Regions from separate parts of the Homo sapiens genome. Here region 2 is linked to region 1. Evidence: fine-mapped expression QTL. A gene starts in region 1. The other region holds a variant in brackets. All regions are shown on one strand. Distances are from middle to middle.

Region 1 (4,518 bases):
GACGGAGTCTTGCTCTGTCGCTCAGGCTGGAGTGCAGTGGCGTGATCTCGGCTCACTGCAACCTCCACCTCCCAGGTTCAAGTGATTCTCCTGCCTCAGCCTCCCGAGTAGCTGGGGTTACAGACATGTGCCACCACACCTGGCTAATTTTTATATTTTTAATAGAGATGGGGTTTTGCCATGTTGGCAAGGCTAGTCTTGAACTCCTGACCTCAGGTAATCTGCCCATCTTGGCCTCCTAAAGTGCTGGGATTACAGGCATGAGCCACTGCACCCTGCCTGAAATGTTATTCCTAAAGGCCCACTTCAAAAATGAGAGACGTGGAGAGGGAGAGGAATATGCACCGGCCTTTGGCGAGGGGCCTGAGTTTGAATCCCAGTGTCTTCATTTCCTGGGGGAGTCATTTCACCTCTCTGCATCATAGTTTTCCCATCAGTAAAATGGGGATAATAAGCATGCCTAACTCAAGGCATGAGACAAATAACCAAACAGGTATGGGCGAGGTTCATACCTGATGCTTGACAAGCGTTACACATTCCTCTTCCCGCCTTCCTTCCCTCATCTTCCTGGGCACTTGTCACTCTGGTCTGATTCTATAATAATCTCCTGCCTCTTATTTCAAACCTGCAGCCTCCAGTATATACCTGGCCCCACGTGGATATCCCCTAAAAGTTCCTGTTCTCGAGAGCCTGTCAGTGGGCCAGGGAGGCAGGAAGGGGCCCCACCACCAGGAGAGGTTTCATGGAGGGTGCGAGAGCTGAAGCCTGGGTGTGTTTGGCGGCAGAGGCCCTGCTCTTTTCCTCTCTGGGGAGCAGCTGTCCCCAAAGCTTCCTGGCTGTTAACCCATGGTGGCTCACAGACACCTTAAGAAGCCACTGAAAACCCCTGGTGCTCTCCCGGGGAAAAGACCCAGGCTCACCGAAAGTTGTGAACAATTTCAAGGGGTTCAAAGACCTTTGAGTCCCATCCTCCAAACTCGAGTTTAGACTCTGTCTTAAAGCCTTGTTAGTTCATTTCTCAAACATTCACGGAGCCCCATGGGCTGCTCCTGGTCTAGGCTAGGTGCTGGGGGCCCAGAGACAGGGCTTTGCTCCAGGGTTGGGAGTAGGGGTGCGCTGAGACGCCCCTAACACAGGTACTGGCTAAAAACAGTGCTCCTGTGTTTAGTTCTTTCCCAGTGAGGCTCCTGCGCTGAGCTTAGCAACACGTCACTCCGCCCTCCCAATACAAGGTGTGGGAACAGCCATTTCACAGGGGGAAGAAACGGGGGTTCAGAGAGGGTGAGCAACTCCCCCAAGGTCACACAGCTGAGTGGACACAATCGGGGTTGTGAAACCCTCGGAGGCTCATCTTCCACAGGAGGTCCAAAAAGCTTTGCCGAGAAAACGGCTGAATGGGGCCTCCAAAGATAAACATGCCATCTGCCTACCACTGCCAACCCAAGAGATGTGGGCACCTGCGGACAAGGCGGGGGCTTGCCCAGCCCTGGGCTCCCACTCTGCTGGAGAGGCTGTGGGGGGTGGCGGATCTCTCTGCCGCAGGGACTGGGGAGAGGCCGGCCTGGGGGCAGGGCGAGGCCGTTGCGGGGCAGCCTCGGAGCTGGTCCATCTCGGGTTACCTCTCCTCCTCCTCCTCCTCCTCCTCCGTCTCCTCTCTCCCTGGCTCCGCGCCTTCCCGCAGTGTCCTGGATGGGGGTGGGCGCCGTGCAGGCCTGGTCGCCTGCGCCCGCGACGGGGGCAGCAGGCCACGCTCCCCGTCGGGGTCCCGCCATCGCCCCCTCCCTGGGCCAGCTCCTCACCTGCGCGCCGCAGCCCCCGTGTTCACCTTGCGCGCGTCCCTGCAGCCGATCGCCGCGCCGCATCCTCCGAGATGCTCAGACTCGGCTAACAGAGCCCGGCGCTGCCGATCGCGAGCCCGCCCACAGGAGCGCAGCCCTGCTTAACTCTTTCCCCTTAGGGGTGGACTCTTCTGTCAACCCTGACTTCCCCTCGCTCAGGGATTGTCAGGGCTCAGAGTGGAACCGAGGTCATCTCTGAGGGATGTGGAAATGTCTTCTGCAGCATCCCTGAAAACGGGGCAGCTAGCCTCTGCTTGCATACCTCATGGGACGGGGAGCTCACTTCCTTTCTATATCCCTACATCCTTTTAGGTAAATCCTACCTACAGCTTGGTATGTATCCTTCAGATTCTTCTCAATGTACAGTTACATGTACATCTTAAATAGAAATGACATCATACTGTATACTTTTTTTTTTTTTTTTTGAGACAGTCTTGCTCTGTCGCCCAGGCTGGAGTGCAGTGGCGTGATCTCGGCTCACTGCAACCTCCGCCTCCCAGGTTCAAGTGGTTCTCCTGCCTCAGCCTCCCTAGTAACCATGCCTGGCTAATTTTTATATTTTTAGTGGAGACAGGGTTTCACCATGTTGGCCAGGGTGGTCTCGAACTCCTGACCTCAGGTGATCAGCCCGCCTCGGACCCCCAAAGTGTTGGGATTACAGGCGTCAGCCACCGTGCCCAGCCACTGTACACATTTCTGTAATTTGTCTTTTTCACTTTCCAATATATTCTGGCACATTTTTCATGTAAATATCTATAGATCTATATCATTTCTTGTATCCACTGTTGAGAATTCCAGCATATGGTCAGCTAGTTATTGTTCTTTATCCTGTCCCCTGTAATTGGACATAGGTTGTTTCTAGCCTTTTGCTCGCAGGGATAATGGAGCAGGGGCCATTCCTTGCTTAACACATCACTGTGCACGTACACTAGTGCACCTACCAGATAATTGCCTAGCCGAGGCATGGTAGTAAAATCTATGGGTCTGCATATGGGGCTGGTAGACACTGTCAAAATGTTCTTGGTCTTTCTTTGAACACCTCTTGATATACTAAACATCCATTATTAGGCTCAATTCCTTAAGGGAAAGCCACACAGGAAATATATGTGGTTATCAAAAATGAGATAGGGCTGGGTGCAGTAGCTCACACCTGTAATCCCAGCACTTTGGGAGGCCTAGAGAGGAGGATCATTTTGAGCCCAGGAGTTCAAGACCAGCATGGGCAAGATGGTGAGACTTTTTTAAATTAAAAAACAAACAAAAAAACAAAAAAACTAGCTGGGCGTGGTGGTACATGCCTGTAGTCCTACCTACTCCAGAGGCTGAGGCCAGAGAATCATTTGAGCCCAAGAGGTCAAGATTGCAGTAAGCTATGGCCACTGGAGTGTCACTGGAGTGCATTGACCACTCTGTCCATTGACCACAAGCTGTGTCACTGGAGTGCAATGACCACTGCACTCCAGCCTGGGCAGTAGAGCGAGACTGACAAAAAAAAAAAAAAAAAAAAAAAAGAAGAAGAAGAAGAAGAAGAAAATTTGGCCTGTATAATGGCTCATGCCTATATTCCCAGCACTTTGGGAGGCCAAGGCTGGAGGACTGCTTGAACCCAGGAGTTCGAGACCAGCCTGGGCAACATGGCAAAACCCCATCTCTACCAAAAAAAAAAAAAAAAAATTAGCCAAGTGTGGTGGTGCGCACCTGGGTCCCAGATACTCAGGAGGGTTATGTGGGAGGATCACTTCAGTCCAGGAGCCAGAGGTTGCAGTGAGCCAAGGTCGCACCACCGCACTCCAGCCTGGGTGACAGAAAGAGACCCAGTATCAAATAAAAAATCAAATTTCACTTAAAAAAGAAAAAGAAAAAATTCTTCCTAGGGCTGAGCTGACATCTCCCTCCCAATGGCTTCCTACCTCTAGCTCTCACAGAAAAGCAATACTCAGGCCCCAGTTGTGTCTGACGTGTTGCAGTTTGAAGAATATTCCATCCCTAATGGCTGGTAAATGGTGGGGCCTGCATTCAGCTGCTTGACTCTGGGAGAGGGTGCAGGCCTTGCCCGTTTCACACATGACCTGACCAGCTCTGTTTTCCTTGTTGGAGCCACTTCAGAATTGTAAAGGCATCTCTCATTTCTCTAGAGTCTTCTTTCTCCAGGACAAACACTCCGAGTTTTTCAGCTGTTCCTTGCAGGACAGGATTCTGGGTTCTCACCATGTGGAATCTCTTCTCTGTTTGCTTCTTACCAGCTCAACAACGCCCCTCTGAAAGTAGGACTCTTGGAAATGAACCTTGTTGGGAGTAAAGCTGAACCTTCACCTCTCCTTTCCAGGATTCTACTCCATTCATACGGCCTCACACTGAATTAATGTTTCTAGCAGCCACATTACTTTGTTACCCAATTGATCTAGTAGTAAAGTCTTCCCATCTCTTCATGTACCACTGGTTTATTGACTCTTAATGTAGGATTCTACATTTGTTTGTTGTTTATCTTGTTAGATCCAGCCTGTTGTTACAATCTTGTAGGAAGTTAACTGGATCCTGATTCTACATATAGCTGATTGACATTTTGGAGGGTTTTGCAATAACCATTTCCCTTCCTGACAGCATCCTAACTTCCTTTGGGGGACCTGTGTCTGTTCCCATGTGGGCAGTCTTGGCCAGAATGCAGTCCTAGGGCCCCCTA
Region 2 (4,000 bases), 130 kb after region 1:
TTTTTTTTTTTCCCAAACCCTGTGTGTGGCATTCAAAGTCATTTTTTAAATCACAGGATATTTAGGAAACGCATCTTGGATCCACAACTAGAAAGGTATACAGAGGAATTTATAGAGAAAAAGTATGTCTTCTAAACTATCCTGTCTTGAATTATTATTTTACTATTCTGAATATTTATTTTGGACATGCTTGACTTTATTATATGACAGAGCATAATAGCTATCCTTTATATGAGATGGGTGCAGTTTCCTCCCTTGCCTCTTTTTTCTTTTTAGAGACAGAGTCTTGCTCTGTCACCCAGGCTGAAGTGCAGTGGCAAGATCATAGCTCACTGCAACCTTGAACTCCTGGGTTCAAGGATCAAGTGATCCTCCCACCTCAGCCTTCCAAGTATCTAGGGCCACTGGCATGCCCCACTACACCCGGCTAGTTTTTTTATTTGTTTGTTTGTTTGTTGGAGACGGAGTCTTGCTCTGTCCGTCAGTCTGGAGTGCAGTGGCACGATCTTGGCTTACTGCAGCCTCTGCCTCCTGAGCTCAAGTGATTCTTCTGCCTCCTGAGCTCAAGCGATTCTTCTGCCTCAGCCTCCCAAGCAGCTGGGATTACAGGTGCCCACCACCACATCAGCTAATTTTTGTATTTTTAGTAGAGATGGGATTTCACCACATTGGCCAGGCTGGTCTCAGACTCCTGACCTCAAATGATCTGCCTGCCTTGACCTCCCAAAGTACTGGGAGTTTGAGACCAGCCTGGGTAACACAGTGAGACCTGTCTCTACAAAAAGTTAAAAAAAAAAAGTAGCCAGGCATGGTGACGCACACCTGTGATCCCAGCTACCTGGGCGGCTGAGGTGGGACCATCACTTGAGTCCAGGAGGTTGAGGCTGCAGTGAGCTGTGAACACAATATTGCACTCCAGCCTGAGCAACAGAGCGAGACCCTGTCTCAAATATAAGTAAATAAATAAATAAAAGTCAAATTATTTACCCTGCTGGGCGCAGTGGCTCACGCCTCTAATCACAGCACTTTGGGAGGCTGAGACAGGCGTTATCACCTGAGGTCGGGTTTGAGACTAGCCTGGCCAACGTGATGAAACCCATTTCTACTAAAAATACAAAAATTAGTCAGGCATGGTGGTGGGCACCTGTAATGCCAGCTACTTGGGAGGCTGAGGCAGGAGAATTGCTTGAACCTGGGACGCAGAGGTTGTAGTGAGCCAAGATCATGCCACTGCCCTCCAGCCTGGGTGACGGAACAAGACTCTGTCTCAAAAAAAAAATTTTTTTTTCACCCATTGGGAAGTATTAACATGAAATAGCCAGGTGTGGTGGCTCATGCCTGTCCATAATCCCAATACCTTGGGAGGCCAAGGCAGGAGGATTGCTCAAGCCCAGGAGTTTGAAACCAGCCTGGGCAACAAAGTGAGACCCCGTCTGTATAAAAAAATTTAAAAATTCGCTGGGCCCAGGTGTGGTGGTTCATACCTGTAATCCTGGCATATTGGGAGGCCAAGGCAGAAGGATCATCTGAGCCCAGGAGTTTGAGACCAGCTTGGGCAATATAGTGAGACCTCATTTCTTATTAATTAAAAAAAAAAATGTAGCTGGGCATGGTTGTGTGTGCCTATAGTCCCCGCTACTCGGGAGGCTGAGATGGGAGGATAACTTGGGCCCAGGAGTTCAAGGCTGGAATAGCTATGATCTTGCCACTGCACATTTAACAAAAAAGAAAGAAAAAAAATTATCATGAAATGACTAGGACATTCCTGGAACTAATCCTTTCCTCCATGTGACAGGCTACAGAAGTTGTGCAACTTGGGCCCCCTGAGCTGCTTTTCTTGCTGGAAGATCTCTCCCAGAAGCTGGAGAGTATGCTGACACCTCCTATTGCCAGGAGAGTCCCCTTTCTCAAGGTTAGTGTAGGCAGAAGCATAGGACTTGGGCATAGTGGATTTGGGA[A/G]CAAAGGAGGTATTATGATGAAAAAGTTGTCACTTTCTTTGGCATTGTGTTTGGGTCACTGGGTAGCATGGGTGCAGCCGTATTGCCAGACAATATTCATCTTGCTTTATTTATTTATTTATTTATTTAGAGATGGAGTCTCGCTCTGTCGCCCAGGCTGGAGTGCAGTGGTGTGATCTCGGCTCACTGCAAGCTCCGCCTCCCGGGTTCATGTCATTCTCCTGCCTCAGCCTCCCGAGTAGCTGGGACTACAGGTGCCTGCCACCACGCCTGGCTAATTTTTTGTATTTTTTGTAGAGACGGGGTTTCACCGTGTTAGCCAGGATGGTCTCAATCTCCTGACCTTGTGATCCGCCCACCTTGGCCTCCCAAAGTGCTGGGATTACGGGCATGAGCCACCGCGCCCGGCCTCATCTTGCTTTAAATAGGAAGTCTGAAGGCTGGGCGTGGTGGCTCACGCCTGTAATGCCAGCACTTTGGGAGGCCAAGGAGGGCAGATCACTTGAGTTCAGGAGTTCAAGACCAGCCTGGCCAACATGGTGAAACCCCATCTCTACTAAAAATACAAAAAGAACTAGCCGGGCATGGTGGTGCAGCTATAGTTCCAGCTACTTGGGAGGCTGAGGCATGGGGAGGAGGAGGTTGCAGTGAGCTGAGATTGCACCAGTGCACTCCAGTCTGGGTGACAGATTTCGTCTCAAACAAAAAAAAAAGTCTACCTGTGCAGTGGTTCACACCTGTAATTCCAGCACGTTGGAAGGCCGAGGCAGGTGGATCACCTGAGGTCAGGAGTTTGAGACCAGCCTGGCCAACGTGGCAAGAGCCTGTCTCTACTAAAAATACAAAAAAAATTAGCCAGGTATGGTGGCGCATGCTTGTAGTCCCAGGTACTTGGGAGGCTGAGGCAGAAGACTTGATTGAACCCAGGAGGCAGACGCTGCAGTGAACCAAGATCATGCTACTGCACTCCAGCCTGGGCATTAGAACAAGACTCTGTCTCAGAAATAAAAAAAAAAAAATAGGAAGTCTGAAACAGAAAATAGAAAGGCACTTGGAATAAGAAATGTATTTCTTTTTTTGAGACGGAGTCTCGCTGTGTCTCCCAGGCTGGAGTGCAGTGGTGCAATCTCGGCTCACTGCAGCCTCTGCCTCCTGGGTTCAAGCGATTCTCCTGCTGCAGCCTCCTGAGTAGCTGGGGACTACAGGCGCGCGCCACCACACCCAGCTAATTTTTGTATTTTTAGTAGAGATGGGGTTTTAACATGTTCATCAGGCTGATCTCGAACTCCTGACCTCATGATCCGCCCACCTCGGCCTCCCAATCCGCCCACCTCGGCCTCCCAAAGTGCTGGGATTATAGGCGTGAGCACTGCGCCCAGCCTACGAAATGTATTTCTAAATGCCCTGAACATTCCTGAATCCTGTTCTTTACTTGAATTTTGGTTTCAACAGCCTCCCAAACCAAGCCTGGGCCCATGCCTCAGTGTAGTAGTAAGCTGTCTAGAACGTCCAGAACTTCAGATGTGTATACAGTGTACAAACGTGCACCTAGCATCCGGGGAAGCAGTTGGACGGTACATATAACAAAATGAGAAAATCTTGGGTCTTGGGTATAAGCATTTAAACATTAATATATCCCGTTTCTTGGTTTCTTGATTCATTTTTCTTCTTCGTCTTCTTTTTTTTTTTTGAGGCGGAGTCTTGCTTTGTTGCCAGGCTGGAGTGCAGTGGCTTGATCTTGGCTCACTGCAACTTCCGCCTCCTGGGTTCAAGCGATTCTCCTGCCTCAGCCTCCCGAGGAGCTGGGACTACAGGTGCACGCCACCACACCCAGCTAATTTTTGTATTTTTAGTAAAGATGGGGTTTCACCATGTTGGCCAGGATTGTCTTGATCTCTTGACCTCATGATCCACCCGCCTTGGCCTCCCAAAGTGCTAGGATTACAGGCAAGAGCTACAGTGCCCAGCAATTCATTCTTCTTTGTATTCACTATCGGGTCTACTTTTTGAGACAGGGCTTTGCTCTGTTGCCCAGGCTGGAG

The links. PIP is the estimated chance that this variant, and not a neighbour inherited with it, causes the effect.
Region 2: its variant is the best candidate, but not a certain one, in a credible set for the expression of PRRT3 in whole blood (INTERVAL, PIP 0.73).

Annotation. Positions count from the first base shown.
Region 1 is chr3:9,950,523-9,955,040 of GRCh38, forward strand. PRRT3 (proline rich transmembrane protein 3) reads right to left here and starts at 1,886. Exons shown (of 4, transcript NM_207351.5): 1 at 1,800-1,886. PRRT3-AS1 (PRRT3 antisense RNA 1) reads left to right here. Exons shown (of 4, transcript NR_046734.1): 4 at 4,082-4,265. RefSeq lists a silencer at 1,385-1,924.
Region 2 is chr3:10,076,286-10,080,285 of GRCh38, forward strand. It overlaps FANCD2 (FA complementation group D2), which reads left to right. Exons shown (of 44, transcript NM_001018115.3): 30 at 1,796-1,912. Among named protein-coding and RNA genes, the nearest start is that of FANCD2OS, 30 kb to the right of the region's middle. The variant A/G (reference allele first, on the strand shown) is at 1,959.